2 separate regions of the Homo sapiens genome follow, and region 1 is linked to region 2. The links come from fine-mapping of genetic effects on gene expression. A gene starts in region 2. The other region holds a variant in brackets. All regions are shown on one strand. Distances are between the middles of the regions.

Region 1 (5,389 bases), 38 kb before region 2:
TGAGAACAATTGGTCTAAGCAATGAAAATCAGTAGGGGTTTTTTAAAAGAGGAGGGAAATAATCTGAGCTATGTCTTAGACACACTCTGAGAGTAAGCAGAAGACTTGGGGAAGAGAGATAAATCACAAGTCTATTGTAGTAAGTCAGGTGAAAGATGCCATGAGCCTGGATGAGGGAAAAAGAAAAATGAAATGGGATATAGTAACAAAATCCACAGGCCTTTGTCCCTTAATTGGGTAAGAGGCAAGGGTGAGGGCTGAGTAAACTGCCCCAAGTGATTTTGGTTGTATTCTCCCATCTCTCTGCTCAGTCTCTTGGTTCTGGCTTCATCCTCAGAGTAGTAACAAGATGACTGCAGCAGTTCTGGGTGTCATATCAGATGCAAAAGTGCTCAGATAGGTGATGAGAAACCATTTCTTCCTGTGGCTCTGTTACAATACCCTTGAACTAATTATGCCCCACCTTGATTTCCTTTTCTCACCTGGGGAACGGCTCGATTTCCTGTGAGACACGTGGCTGAATGAGGGTGGGGAAAGTGCATATGCAAAACCGGGGACTGTTGTTGATAGCCCCAAACACCGACTGGGCACTGGGTTGGCCATTACACTGGAATAGTGACTAGCACATAGTGGGCTTACACAAATTTTTGTAGGAAGAATGCCTTACAGGGTCATTTTGAAAATAACAGCTCCTTGCATTTTGCCTACTTCTCCATTTTACTACCTCAGCTGCCCCTTCTTATAATAGCTTGTTAGGTAGATTTAAATAGATATTGTTCCCGATAAATTAGCTAGACCCTTCATCTCTGTGTTAAAAAAAAGTTGCAGTCATAGGCTTTAACTTTTCCATTATGCCTGTCAGAAAAAAAGAAAGTGCCAGTGATTATTTTTTTGTATGACCTAGTAATCTTTCAAGCATTTATATTGTTTAAAAACACTGAGGTGGCCGGGTATGGTGACTCACACTTGTAATCCCAGAAGTTTGGGAGGCTGAGGTGGGTGGATCATTTGAGGTCAGGAGTTCGAGACCAGCCTGACCAACATGGTGAAACCCCATCTCTACTAGAAATACAAAAAAAATTAGCAGGGCATGGTGGAGGATGTCTGTAGCCCCAGCTACTTGGGAGGCTGAGGCAGGAGAATCGCTTGAACCTGGGAGGTGGAGGTTGCAGTGAGCTGAGATTGTGCCACTGCACCCCAGCCTGGGTGACAGAGCGATACTCCATCTCAAAAACAAACAAACAAACAAACAAGCACTGAGGTGTCAATTATAATATTACAAGGGCAAGTAAGATAACCAATCAGAATTGCACGTTTCTTCTGGTTATTATCACAGGGCATTGCAACAAACTAGTCTTCAAAGTCTTAGAAGAATCTCTTCTAACCATACTTCCAAGGACAAATTTATATTAACAGAGAATAGAAGAAGTTGGCAACAGTTATGAATATTCACACAAGTCTCCTTGTTGCACAGAAGCAAGATTGATATTCTTGTGAATGTTCTTAATTTAATACCTTATCACATCAGACTATTTGAATTTATTTTATGATGCAGAAAGCTCTATCTTGTAACTTCAGGAGAGAGGGGACATCTCTTCATCTTTTTTAGCCACCTATTGTTGATTGTGAAGACTTGCATTTTTTAAGGCCAGGCTTAGGAACTTCATTACTTAGCATAAGAAGTGAAAAGCAGGCCTAAGACTTCATTTTTATTTGCAGAAATGGAATAAAGGATGAATAGGATTTTACTTAGTGAGAGAAGGAGTGTGTGGCATTAATCTACCACATTCTGATTTTGCTAATGAGGAATATGCTAATGTCACAAGAGTGGCAAAATTGACAAGAAGATGTCAACAAGCACAAGAAAAGGTCTTTCTTTCTTAAGGTAATCAAAGGTTTAGACACTTAGAGAGCAGGGGACACTGCAGCACTTCTGTCCAGAGAAACAAGTTTCCCTGCTCTCCTAAATCCCCTGCAACAAGAGGCTGCAGCTCCTGCCTCCCAATTAGAATCTGACTGTTCCACTTCTTTGTTCTTTTTCCCAAACCAGTACTTAGCATTAAACTCTGCAGACGGCTTTATTTGTCTATTGCTGGAACCTTGTCTTCTAAGGCCTGCTGAGGTTGAATAAATTAGATCAAACTGATACTAACTTGGTAATTGATACCAAGTTAGCGACAGTAAGTAATATTGCCCTTAACAATTTGATAGTAGGATTTAGACAGCAAGATGAAGTGTAAATAGCCAAGGGATGGTTGGTCTTTTAAAAATAGGTTAATATTTATTTAAAATATCTGCATATGTCTTATCCATTTTCTAATTGATCTCCTTAAGTTACAATTTTATTCTTTCAACTATTTCTTCTGAACTTGTGAATATAGTAA[G/C]CAATAATTGTATACAAATTTAATTTCTCATAGTTACAGATAAAATATCCTAAATTTTAATGGAGAGGAAACAATTTAATGCATATGTGAGAATTTTTCATATTAATCTTACAGGAAACTGGCTTTTCTTTCATCTCTACAAATGTTCTGAGTGGTTTGGAGCAGATTCGGTACATGGAAAAGTATTAGGTTGGTGCAAAAGTAATTGTGGTCTTTCTATTACTTTCTTTTTTTTTTTTTTGAGATGGAGTCTTGCTCTGTTACCCAGGTTGGAGTGCAGTGGCGCAGTCTTAACTCACTACAACCTCTGCCTCCCAGGTTCAAGTGATTCTCCTGCCTCAGCCTCCTGAGTAGCTGCGATTACAGGCGTGTGCCACCATGTCTGGCTAATTTTTGTATTTTTAGTAGAGACGGGGTTTCACCATGTTGGTCAGGCTGGTCTCGAACTCCTGACCTCGTGATCCGCCTGCCTCGGTCCCCCAAAGTGCTGGGATTATAGGTGTGAGCCACCGCGCCTGGCCTGTCCATTACTTTTAATGGCAAAGACCACAGTTACTTTTGCACCAACGTAATACCAGTGAATTTCATTCTGCCAACCCCACTTCACCCCAAATGACATCATTTTAGTACTCCTTACTACCTCTTTAAAAGAAGTTAGGTGAAAAATGAAATCAAGATATTTTGGGGTATATTAGTTAGATTAGGTCCACCTGTGAATAACAGAAATCTCAAAACAACAATGGCTTAAGTAAAACAGAAATTTATCTCTCACATTAAAGAAGGCTGGAGATAGGTGGTCTAAGGCTGGGATGCTGTTCCATGTGTTAGGAATTTAGCTCTTTTTATCCTATTTCTCTGTCATCTTCAGCCCATGCAGTCTATCCTGTGATCAAATGTTGCTATTCAGACTTCAGCCACCACATCTTTATTCCAGCTACAGGTAATGAGGAGCCAAAGAAAGGCAACACAAGCTACAGAGGGAACATTGTTCCAGCAGCCGTGCATCTGGTATTAAAGTGAAAAATGAGCCAAAGTTAAACAAGCAAGAGAGACTTTATTCAAGACTATTGCAATACAGGAGAGAGGTTGAACTCAACTCAGCCTCTGAGTTCAGGGTGAAACAAAAGGCTGGAGAGTTTTTAAGAGCTGGGGTGGGGGTAACGGTAGGCCACCTGTGCTTAATTCTGACCTATCTCCATGACGGAAGGTAGGCTTTTGCCCTCCCACAGACTGGAGGATAAAGGCATTATCTTCCTTCAGAAATTACATTTCAAAGAGATGGTTTTCAGGTTTTTGAGAGAGACATTTCTGGGGGTAATCAAATAGGTAAAAGCTTTTTGAGGAGACATACACACTTGAAAGGGAGCCAAAAAAGAATTTGCAATGATGAGTTTGTTTTTTAAGTAAATAGGAAAACGGACAGGAAGAAATCTGTCTGAAGTTTAGTTAACTTGAGAAGTTAATGCTGTCTTGATCACCAGTTAAAAGTAAAGATTCTGTACTTAGGAAAAATGGGAGAATGGAAATTGGAGAAAAACTGATTTGCCCCAGTTTTCTTAAGTTTTTTTTCTTTCTCAATACTTTGTAGAAAGACTAAAAAGTAGAGTATTTAATTTAAAAATTAATTTTTCAAATGGTAGAATTTTTGGGTACCACTACTGCTTGTGTGGTTAAAAAAAAAAAGACAAAATAGAACAGCAAAGGATGTGGGAGACTCTTCCATTGTTCTAATAATTCATCCTGTAAAGTTAACTTGGGTTTGTAAAATAGAGGCATTGTTAACTGACCTCTACCTATGTGAGCCATTTTCCCTTCCTTCTATCAACATACTGAATCCTGACCCAGCACAATAAACACCATGGCCAGTAGACTATTCTTATAACCTCCTGAGTCTCTCCCACCACCAAAACTGTGTTTCCCAGGAGTGCATGGTGTTTGTTCCTGCACTTGATTATTTTGGCTGTACTTGTAATTACATAAGATAATTGTTATGTGTCCTAATGAAATATGGGTGTGGAGGGAACTTTTCCTATGATAGTTAAGTTCACTGATTCCAAAGAATCAATAAACCGAATTGCTAAAAAAAAATTACTGACAATTTAGGTAAGGGTGAAATAACTCTTAAAGTCTCGGAAGAAAAACCAAAAATCTTGAGGGATGCTGCAGTTAGATTTCATTAGAAATGTTTTCAAGTTCTCATTTCACTTAAAAACAAAACCAAAACTGGGACCATAGACAGTGTTTTATGGACAATGATATTTATACAAGAAAAATGACATGAAACTTCAATCATAGACCTACTCAAAGTAAGGCCTTGGCCCTATATCAAAAGTTAATGACTAAATGTTTATACGTTTTAAATTTAAATGTTTATGGTACTTTAAAAATTTATTCCTCACTTGACCCAATTTTTCCAGTTAATTTACCAAGTATGTTCTTAATCAATGCAGATGGAAGAAATAAACCTACTTAATTCTCAAGTGTTATGATGGTTACTGACATCTTTAAAGACTTGTCCATTACATCAGAGGTGGCCAAGAACGCTATTGATTGAGATTCTTTTTCCATTCTCTTCCATTTTGGTCTAAATAACAAATGTTTCCCTGATTCCAAATGAGATAACTTTCATCCCCTACAGAAAAAATTAGACAAAAGGGGGCACAAAATTATGTTTTAGCTTCAATATCGGGATTTATTTATTTTTGTTTTTGTAAGTTAGTTTTGGGTTCTGTCTCTTATGGAGAGTGAATATGAGGTCACTGCAGGGAAAACCTCTTTTTTTATACACAAAACTGAAAAAGAAAAGCTAAGTCATTTTAAAGCAAGTGGCATTAATAAAATACTTTCCTGTAAAAACACTTTAATATGAAAATATTGTGGTAGATGTAAGTCTTAGTGTTTATTGAAAGCAACAGCCTGTCATTTAAGGGGATTTATTGTTGGATTTTTCCTAAATTAGAAGGGCTGTTAGTGTGTACAAGCTGCCATAAATCGTCATTATTTTT
Region 2 (5,367 bases):
ATTTACACGTTAGTCCCACCTAGTCTCTAAAAGAAAGGATTTCATTGTCCTCAAAAGGTGATGAGGCTCAAGAGAAGATAAAACTGAGTAAAGACAATGAGACTCCTTTTTTTTAAAAAAAATGAAGATGAGTAAACTAAATTGTGAATCATTATTTAAATTAATGATAGACCAAAGACTTGTTTTCACCATTTGATTCCATTAATACAGATTTTATGTAAATGCAGAAACACAGCAGGAATTATGATACCAGAACATTATGGATGATGCAGTGACTACAGGCATATAGGTAGGAAAAAAGAAAATACTTGGGTTTTTGTTTTCATACGTAGTTTTACTTAACTAGAAATAATTATTCTTTTGTGTGTGTTCAAATTTATTTTATTTTTTATTTTACCTATCTAAATATAAAAAATACTATCATCTGATTCTCTTCCTTCATGTGAAATTTTGTTTTGTTTTGACTTTTAATACCTGTGAGGTTTTTAAATACTTTGTCTTTGCATCTCTTCTGTGAAATTGTAAAAGTTCTCAACTGTTGATGTAGGAGCTCCTGTATTAAACCCAAAGGGGAAGTCTGAACTACAAAATGCGATGGAGGAAATGTTACCATATCTGTTCTAAATTTAGAATTAATTAGTCCTGAAAATAGAGGAATGTCATATTCACCGTCTTTGGTCTTCCCATGCTTTCTGAGTTCCCCATCATCATCAGCTCATGGAATTATACTTAGTAATGCTATGTTCATTTCTTGCAGGGCACTAGAAAAATTGGGACACTTGTTTTTGTTCTTTGCTAAAGTATGAACTGGGAAAGATAAGGAGAGGTATGAAAATTGTATGCCAGCTTATGGTCCCTGTGTGATTTATGTAATCAATTGGTTTTAAGATCCATCAAACAGAACAATGGAAGCCAATTCACAGAAATTATAATATATGCAATCTTTACTCCATAGCTGGCCTATACAAATTGGTATTAAAAGTACAAAGCATACTAATTAAGCAAAAGAGGTCATCAGACTATCACAAATGATAGCTATAAACAGTTTAAAAATCCATGCAAAAATGTTCAACCTCATTATAATCAAAGTAATGCATATTGAACAATGAGTTAGCATGTTGTGCTTATGAGATTAGTGACGATTTTTTAAAGGAGATCAGCCTGTGAAGGAGAAGCACTGCTAGAATGAGAGGGAATTGGCATCACTCTTGGAAAAGCAATTTGGCAATAATGAGACTTAAAATGCCATAATCTCTTAATAATTTCAGTTCTAGAAAGTTTTCTGAAAAAATAACCCTTACTACAGAAAAAGCTATAGAGTTGTTCATCTTTCTGTCATGTAAAAATATTTTTAAAAACTGTATACAACAGGGCTGGGCGCAGTGGCTCACGCCTGTAATCTCAGCACTTTGGGAGGCCAAGGCGGGCGGATCATGAGGTCAAGAGATCGAGACCATCCTGGCCAACATAATGAAACCCTGTCTCTATTAGAAATACAAAAATTAGCCAGGCGTGGTGGCACGCGCCTGTAGTCCCAGATACTCAGGAGGTTGAGGCAGGAGAATCGCTTGAACCTGGGAGGCAGAGGTTGCAGTGAGCCAAGATTGCGCCACTGCACTCCTGCCTGGCAACAAAGAGAGACTCTGTCTCAAAAAAAAACAAACAAAAAAAACTGTATACAACATAAATGTTCAGCAATAAACAAATGACTAAACTATAACTGAATAGATATCATTTTTGTGCATTCATTTAAAATGATTATGCAGAAGTTATATTAAAAGGGACATGGTTATGTTAGTGAAAAAAGCTGGATATATTATGTACATTATTATTTCAGTTATGAAAAGCAAACTATATAGAATGTATATAAATAAAATTTGAAAGGAAATAAAACATATTTTGTGTTTTTAAGGTGATGGAAAATACGTATGAATTTTTAATATATATATTTCACAGTTCTCCCACATTACATAATATGCATGTTTCCTTTTGCAACAAAAAGATGTTTATTTAATAAATTAAAAGTACATAAAATAATACAGGAGGAATGAACCATCAACATGGATTCATAACAGTGAGTCAATATGGATCCAACCCTTTCACAACAGCGAGTGAATATGGATCTAACCCTCATGATTAATCTCACAGCAATTGAATTTTCACTGGCCTTTTCAAAATTGTTGTCTCTCTGAATGTTGACAATTGCATTGCTTTCTAGAAAATACTATAGTGCCTAATCTCTGAGGAATTAGAATTACACTTATCCTGTTTAATAGCTAAACTAAACTAAAGAGGAATACACATAGTCAACAAAAGCTTCTTTAAAAATAACAAGTACTTCACATGGCATAATTATCAGTGAACACTTACTGAACAGCTGTAATTAGATTTACGTTCTAAAATGCTGTCCACATTTTTCTTTCAAAAGAAAAATGTCAACTTATACTCATTAACATGTTTCAAAATATATTTTAATTACACTAAAAGTTATCCAACATTTTTAAAATAACTACTTTCTAAATACTAAGGGTCTTCTCGTTAGGACTTAGAAATTAAGTGAATTTTTAGACACACAAATGGAACAAAAAGTTTAAAATGCCACTTACCTGACATGCTTCTTTTTTTCAGAGAAATCTTTATCTAGCCATAAGACAAATATATGGATTAAAAATCCTCCTACAAACTTTTTTCCTAGGTGATGTTGCTCTGTTATGTTAAAAGCAGCATGACAGTAAAACTTATCTTTATCTGTGCCTCGGATTCTTTTCTCTTCTGTTTCTTAAAATCTTTTGTGTGTACTTTGTTTCAGTTACAAACAGGAAATGTGGTGAAGGAGTTGTCTTGAGTTTTGATCTGAAAACAGTCGACTTAAATTGTGTAACGTGGGAAGAAAAATCCCACACACCTTTGTAATCTGACATTTGAATTTTTATCAATACCTGAGTCTAATTGAAAAATAAATAAATAAAGGTAGGAATTAAACCAGGAGGGATCTTCCTATCTCTGGAGAGAATCCAGTCATCTCTTCACAAGTAAATTCACATGGAAACAAAATAAGATACACTAAACTGATGAGTAAATAGTAAGCAACCCGTGGGTGTGCTCAGCTGTTGTATTTTCTTGAGCCATGATGGAGGACAGGGAGTTAATATTTTTTGAGCACTTAGTATGTATCAGTTGCCTTCTATACCTCATCTTAATGCGAGGCTAGATGCCTGCCTTATTTCCTGACAATCCTCACCTTATCAGTATGAGTTTCTCTGTCCAATCTAGAGCCACCTGACAACAAGCTCCTGTTCTCAACCACCATCCCAGAATCTTAATAGCAGCAGTTCTTACATGTTGGTGTACATAAGTATGCTATAAGATGCTAGTTTAAAATCCTGGGCCCGTCTAAATTAGACTATTTAGGGTGAAGCACTAGAATCTGCATTTTAACAAGCAGATTTTCTGAGTGCATTTTAAATTACATATATTGTATATGATAAGATATTTTAATATAGATGTTCTGGACAATGCTTTTGGAAACTCATATAAGGAATAGAATCTATATTATTCATTATTAAAATTTCATAACTAGAATTAAGCACACCGGCACATCGTAAGTCTCAATAATTGAGACTTACTCTCAGTGATTGAACAAACAAAACCATGGGTGTCTTGTGCTTTCTTTGTCTTCCATTATAGAAAATAACTCCCTAGTAAGCAAAATACAGTGCATCTTATCCTTTGGACAAAGCTGGCTAAACACTAACACATTTTTCCACTTCAATCACTCCCCCCCAAAATATTTTTTGGTGAATCGTTGACTCAGAGGCTGTAAAACTGAAAGAGACCTTGGAGATTCTCTGGTCTAAGCTTCTTTAAAAGGGATTTTTAAAGTATGTTCCATAGAACACTCGGCCTTTAAGAAACGCAGAAGACAAATGTTTCTTCAACAAATATCTTTGGAAAAAATATATAGCTTTATTTTTACCTCCGTAGATGCATATTAAAGGCTTAGGTAAGTCCTGCGAAAAGGAAACCCAAATAATATTTTTATCAGAGTTTTTCTAAACTTATTTGGCCAGAGGACTCTTTGTTCAGCCGCTAACCATTAGCAGAGTGACAGGTTTTATGAAGCAGGCCTGGATGCTGACAGAACAAGACTTCAGGGAACAGCAGCCTCAGGTTCATGTAGGGATCAGAGGACAACAAAGAATCAGAAGGTTTCATCTTAGAATTAGATGGAACGTAGGGAGGAAGACTGCTGAAAAGTTGAATCCCAGACATTCAGGAAGATTCGGGCACCTGATAAATCAGTTTGAGAGGAGAGGGCCTAGTTATGGCCTTGAGGAGTTGAGCTTTGGTCCTGAAAGAGGGTAACTGGTAAGAAAAGTAGAAGTCCTAGGCTCAAGAAAGGACTACAGAGGTTACCTAAGCAAGACCTTGGAATATGGGCAAAGTAGATGCCCACAACTCGAGCTTACAGAGGACATTGGAAAGAGAAAGGGTTTCAGGACTGGAAATTTTGGTGCTAGCATTCCTTTGTTAGAACAAAATTATCGCAGAGGATGGGGAAAGAAGGAAGGAAGATGCTTTCATCCCAGCTGATCCATAAAGTGCAATTCCAGAAAAAACGGTGTTTAATTATTATTGGCTGTGAATGGAGAGAAGGTCAACTCAGCAAGAATGACTCAGGCAAAAATGCAGGAACTCTGTGGTTTGCTCAGAAGTATCTCTCAGAGCAGCCCAACAGGAAGAGAGACCCAAAGCAAACCCACCTGTTGGGAGAGCAGCTGTCTAAGGGCTTCCCTGCCTCAAGGGTATGACTTTACCCATACAGCTGCAGGAAGCTGGGGAAGGCAAGAGCAGAAGAGACATTAGGAAGGATATGTCCTGCTTCAGAAAGAGCCTGAAGTACCTGTTGAGTGATTACCTTATGGCTTAAAAGGGTTAATGTACCTCCTATGCATGATTGACATCTCTAAATGGTAAAAACTTAGGCTAATAAATCTGAACCACTTCACAGTTTCTAATTATTACAATATTTTTGAAAAGTGATCTTCATTACAATGTTCCATTCCATAGATTTAAATAATCTACGGAGATGTAACAAGATTGTCCAAGGTCACACAGGAAGTCCGTGCCTGCACATTAGTTAGCTCCATAGATGTTTGAAATTTGCCAGGAAAAAAAAAATAGCTTTTCATTAAATATAGATGGCTGAGCACATGGAAACATTATCAGAATATAAAAAAGCATATGGATATTTATTTGTTATAAAATATATTAGAAAGTGCATTCAGAGATTTGAATGATGGCTTCATGAGCCATGTTTAAATCATAAATAAACATGAGGCCTCTGTAGTACTTTTTAATGAGATG

What was found.
Region 1: its variant is fine-mapped to the expression of TRAT1 in whole blood (INTERVAL, PIP 0.90).

The regions. Positions count from the first base shown.
Region 1 is chr3:108,858,102-108,863,490 of GRCh38, reverse strand. No RefSeq gene overlaps it. Among named protein-coding and RNA genes, the nearest start is that of TRAT1, 38 kb to the right of the region's middle. The variant G/C (reference allele first, on the strand shown) is at 2,385.
Region 2 is chr3:108,820,174-108,825,540 of GRCh38, reverse strand. It overlaps TRAT1 (T cell receptor associated transmembrane adaptor 1), which reads right to left and starts at 2,755. Exons shown (of 6, transcript NM_016388.4): 1 at 2,607-2,755. The coding sequence starts at 2,613.